Regions from separate parts of the Homo sapiens genome. Here region 2 is linked to region 1. The links come from fine-mapping of genetic effects on gene expression. Tissue or cell type: hypothalamus. Region 1 holds a variant in brackets; the other region holds the start of a gene. All regions are shown on one strand. Distances are between the middles of the regions.

Evidence for each region. PIP is the estimated chance that this variant, and not a neighbour inherited with it, causes the effect.
Region 2: it holds the start of AACS, and the variant in region 1 is fine-mapped to the expression of AACS in hypothalamus (GTEx, PIP above 0.99). The same link has a PIP of 0.9 or more in caudate, lung and nucleus accumbens.

The regions. Positions count from the first base shown.
Region 1 is chr12:125,141,042-125,143,793 of GRCh38, reverse strand. AACS (acetoacetyl-CoA synthetase) reads right to left here. Exons shown (of 18, transcript NM_023928.5): 18 at 478-1,702. The coding sequence ends at 1,565. Among named protein-coding and RNA genes, the nearest start is that of TMEM132B, 44 kb to the left of the region's middle. RefSeq lists an enhancer at 113-687. The variant G/A (reference allele first, on the strand shown) is at 1,287.
Region 2 is chr12:125,064,234-125,066,985 of GRCh38, reverse strand. AACS (acetoacetyl-CoA synthetase) reads right to left here and starts at 1,551. Exons shown (of 18, transcript NM_023928.5): 1 at 1,269-1,551. The coding sequence starts at 1,401. It overlaps LOC105370052 (a long non-coding RNA gene), which reads left to right. Exons shown (of 4, transcript XR_001749365.2): 3 at 1,876-1,983. RefSeq lists a silencer at 1,291-1,910.

The sequences.
Region 1 (2,752 bases):
ATGACTGCCACATCCTGAGGACAGCAGAGTGCAGCAGACAGGAGCCAGGACTGCTGCACTGTGGAGTTGCTGCCCGGCCCCGGGAGAATGGACTGCCTCCAACTTCCTGTGACGTGAGAGCCATAAACGCTGCTGGGCCAAGCCTGGATCCCGTGGCATGTAGCCACACACAACCCAAGTGACATGCAGCTCTTGCGATGACAAGAAAGGAGCCAGAAACCTGGCTGGCGCTGGGTGTTGGGGGATCTCAGGGTGGAGGGGGCCCAGGGTGCTGGCTTCACACTGAGCAGCACTCCTCGTTGGTCACAAGGGAATGTGGGTAAGTACCAGGGCCCTGGGAAGTGCCCCCAACAATTCGAACCACACAACTCCAGGGCACAGCTGTTGGCGGGCGCACAAGCACCACCAGCCTCACACACGCAGATGCGGTCCCCCCTCCAGAGAAAACACACCAGCACACTGCACACACAGCATGGGTGCATGTGCACACATGTATACATTTATTGCATAAAATTCATCATAGCACTTTCCCCCATATTTTTATAATCCAAAAGGAAAATGATTCAAGAAAGGATTTCATTGTGCTCAGTTTCAAAAAATATAAAAATGGACATCAGATTAGAGATACAAGTTCATACGCTGAACTGAATTGTACATACCAACTGCCTGGCTATGGAAACCCGTGACTTGACTTAGGGGTGCTGATGACATGATCTCGACAAGAACCCCCTAGCAACTCTCAGGTGGAGGCAGCACAGGGATGCGGTTCCTGGTGAGGAGGGTCCTCACTCGGTGACCACACTGCCTGGGCTCACAGCTGGAGGGCTCACCCATGAGGGACACGGGTGGACACCCACTGCTTCACATGCCTAATTCACATTAGAAACATGTAAAGCCATTCAGTCTGTGCAATAAAGAGATCCTGTATGAAATCCACTCATTCCTTGGAGGGAAGCTGGCCCGGAGGCACGCTCTGGTTGACGGGTGACGCACAGTCCTCCAGGGCCTGCATTGCATCCATGACACAGACACACGTGAACACCCAGCCCGCCGGTCCTAGCAGCCAGCTGTGAAAGCTGTGTCAAGTCACGGGGGTTCCTTTCTAACAGCTAAAGCTCAAAGGCATACTGGACCCTGAGGGAAAACAGGAGAGCCTGAGATGGGAAGGGAAGAAAGGGATTTGCACCTTCACAGAGCAAAATGGGACAACGGGACGGGGAGGTTGAAGACAAGACCTTGGCTCAGGAGTGTGTCTGTCTTCAGCACCAGCCAGCCCCACCGTTCCC[G/A]CTGCACTGTGTGTGCAAAGACACACACTCTCACCACAGTGCCACACCTGCGGCCCAGACACTCCCTCCTGGTCTCTGAAGGCCAGAATCCCACTCGTGTGGAAGATCCAGGTACCCACCAGATTTAACAAAACAGAGAAACGATCCCTCCCCAAGCCTACAGAACACTTGGTGCGAGCATCCTTTTACAACAGCTGTAGGTTTCTGTATAATTTCTTGAGCACACAAAAGTTACAGTGCACACGGGTGCGGCTGAGTGACACGCCAGCCAGTCTGACTCAGAAGCCCTGCAGCTCAGGGATGTCCCGGTACAGATCCAGGGTCTCGGGGTTCGAGAAAGCACCTCCTTGCTCCACGGCTTTTCCAGCGATGATCTGTTTGACGGCAACTTCCACTTTCTTGCCGTTGAGCGTATACTGCGAGGGAAAGGTAGAAAAACAGGAACATTTAAACCTGAAGGGGGGAAAATCCGCAGCCCTGGATATATCCAGGCCCCAAAGGCCCAGCTCCACCTGGAGTGCCAAGAGTGAATGGGTCTCGGCTCTAAGATGCCCCTCTTCCCACCAGGTCTGCAAACGTGCACCGAAGTACGGTGAACTGACCACTGTCTCTCTGTTTGGGGGATAAAACCTGTTCTTCTGAAAGGCACTTTCAAGGACTGGTGCTGAAACTCAACTCTAACACTCTCCACACCCCACCCCCGCCCCCTGGCACGGCTGTTGAGAAACTGAGGCTATTTCAAAGTTGCCCAGAGGTCACCATGAGCATGTTCATTTTTCTTTTTTTCTTTTTTTTTCTTTTTTTTTTTTTTGAGACAGAGTCGCACTCTGTCACCCAGGCTGGAGTGCAGTGGTGCAATCTCCGCTTACTGCAAGCTCCCCCTCCCAGGTTCACACCATTCTCCTACCTCAGCCTCCTGAGTAGCTGGGACCATAGGCACCTGCCACCACGCCCAGCTAATTTTTTGTATTTTTAGTAGAGATGGGGTTTCACCAGGATGGTCTCATGTTAGCCAGGATGGTCTTGATCTCCTGACCTCATGATCCACCCATCTTGGCCTCCCAAAGTGCTAGGATCACAGGCGTGAGCCACCGCGCCCAGCCGAGCATGTTCATTTTTCTAACGCTGCACACTCTACTGGGCCCCGTTGGGACCCACGACACGTGTCACATCCAAGCTGGCCTCGAGAGGGCCCTCCAGACACCCCACTGACCCCGGCAGTGCATATTCCAGATGGGAATATAAAAAAGAGTATCTCTCAGGGTTCAGGGTCAGCCTGACCAGGATAAAAATGCAGGCATAGACCATTCCTAAATCCCAGCAGACACCCTGGGCAAGAAAGTTTTCAGGGAAGATGTGGCTCCTGCCACCCCATCTGGGGGATGCTGGGTAAATTCCTGAACCTGAGTTCACTTCCTCGAATGAAAGTAGGGGTGCCAGCACCTAGGCTATAAGGCTGTGAGTCA
Region 2 (2,752 bases), 77 kb after region 1:
CCAACCACTGTTTGGTGAGGAGGAAAGGAGGCCCCAGAACCCCTGACAAGGGGCTGCAAAGGAGGAGATGTGAGCGACATGGGGCTGTGGCAGAAGACTTCTGGTGCCACAGGTGACTGGGGTGTCCATCCCTGTGAGCCTGAGCAAGAACAGTGACGCCACCAACAGAAACAAGGGAGTCCCTGCGCCAGCGGAGGGGGTGAGGAGGGGAGACCATGAGTTAAAAATCCCCTAGGAGGCCAGGCGCCGTGGCTCACACCTGTAATCCCAGCACTTTGGGAGGCCAAGGCGATCGGATCACCTGAGGTCAGGAGTTCGAGACCAGCCTGACCAACATGGAGAAACTCCGTCTCTACTAAAAATACAAAATTAGCCAGGCGTGGTGGTGTATGCCTGTAATCCCAGCTACTCGGGAGGCTGAGGCAGGAGAATCACTTGAACCCGGGAGGCGGAGGTTGCAGTGTGCCGAGATCTCGCCATTGCACTCCAGCCTGGGCAACGAGAGAGAAACTGTCTCAAAAAAAAAAAAAAAAAATCCCCTAGGAATACCTAGGGGAGGCAGGGTGGAGGGGTGGAGCTGGTAGTTGGGCAAGCCAGCTAGAGCTCAGGAAGAGCACCCGGAGCGGTTACCCCACGGAGAAGGAGCCTTTGCCCCACCCGCACCGAGAGAGGCAGTTTCTGAGGTTCAAGGTGATGGGTGGAAAGAGAGTCTTTTACTAGGTTCTGTTTGGGGGCTGGGAGTGTAGACACGTGGACAGGGCCTCCTGCCTGACCATCCTGCTAGGTGCTGGCCTCCAGCAGGGGCAGCTGGAGATGAGGGAGGTCAGGGGGACAGAGTGCACGGCACTGGGGACTGGCAAGGGACCCCCACAAACAGAGGAAGAGCTGCAAGTCAAAAAGGCCCTATGTCCGGGGGAAGCCCCCACAGGCCGGAGGTCAAGACTCCAGGGAGCACCTCACAGGTAGGAAAGCCTAGCAAGGGGTCACACGGTCAACAGGCAGCTGGCCCTCCCGAGGGGTGACACTCCCGGGGAGAGGGTGACCCCCACATGCAGAGGAGACGCTGCAGAGTCAGGAAGTGCCAGGAGGTGCTGTGGAGGGGTGATGTTCCCCAAGACTGGGGGGAACCCCGCAGTCAGAAGGCCTCCCCGCCATCAAGTGGCTCCTCCAGCCCCAGAAGCGTGAAACTAGCCATGGGGAGACCACCCAACCACCCTGCACGGCTCCCGCCCATCCCCCGCAGGCCCGGCCGCGCGCCCGACTCTCACCCAGCGCCAGGCCGCAGGCGGCGCCCACAGCCGCCCGGAAGCGGTCCATCTGCGTGTTCTTCTTACTGTCAGGCTCCCACATCACCTGGCACTCCAGGATCTCCTCCCGACCGGGGCGCTCCTCCTTGGACATGGCGGCGGCGGGCGGCCGGGGCTGCGACGAGGGCTGGGGACCAGGGGCCGGGGCTGAGGCGAGGGCCGGGGACCTGGGACCGGAGGAAGCGACGGTCAGGAGCGCCTGGCGGGCTGGGTCAGCGACGGCGGCGGCGGGGAACAAGGGACTGAACGGCCGCCGCCGCCTCCTGCGGGCCGCTTGGCCCAGGCCCCGCCCCGCAGGCCCCGCCTCGAATCCCCGCCCCCTTCCAGGCCCCGCCCTCCCGCCTGTAACCCTCCGCTGAGTGCAGCGCCGCTCAAAGGAGTGCTCGCAGCCGCCGGCTCCAGCGCCCGCGGCCGGGGGGCGTGGGGGTGAGGGGCGCTCACGAGCCTTGGCCCCAGCTCCCCGACCTCACCTGGAGCTGGAGGGCGTTAGGGCAGCCGGAGAAGCCAGGCGTCCGAGCCCGCTGTTTCCTACACGTGTACATCATTCATTCGCTATTTCTTCCTGCAGGTCTTTACTGAGAGCCTGCGGCATTCGGAGGACTTTGGGAGCTTTGCGGATACAGCAGCGAACAAAACAAAATTCTTGTTCTCTGTCAACAGGAGAGGAGGGGTACAGGTGTGAGGAAGACGGGAGACGATTAACAAATAAGTACATCGTGTACATACACAAGATAATGTCATAGTATAATACAATAATATACATAGTATGCCAATGGGTATCAAAATACACATTTGTGAAAGGAAAATAAATCTTGGGGCCCCACTACTAAGCTAAAGGGAAAAGAAAAGCTGGGAACTGCTTAGGGCTAACCTGCCTCCATTCTATTCAAAGTCACCCCTCTGCTGAGTTAAATGCACACCTGATTGCCTCCTTTGCAGAGGCTAATTGAAAACTCAAAAGAATGCAGCCATTTGTCCCTTATCTACCTATGACCTGGAAGGCCCCCTCCCCGCCTTAGCTTTTTTTTTTTTTTTGAGTCTCACTCAGTCGCCCAGGCTGGAGTGCAATGTCCCAATCTCAGCTCACTGTAACCTCTGCTTCCCAGGTTCAAGCGATTCTCCTGCCTCAGCCTCCTGAGTAGCTGGGATTACAGGCACACGCCATCATGCCCAGCTAATTTTTCGTGTTTTTTTTTTTGTTGTTGTTGTTGTTTGTTTTGTTTTTTTGAGACGAAGTTTCGCTCTTGTTACCCAGGCTGGAGTGCAATTGCGAGATCTCGGCACACGGCAACCTCCATCTCCCAGGTTAAAGCAATTCTCCTGCCTCAGCCTCTCGAGTACCTGGGATTACAGGCATGTGCCACCACGCCTGGCTAATTTTGTATTTTTAGTACAGACAGGGTTTTTCCATGTTGGTCAGGCTGGTCTCCAACTCCCGGCCTCAG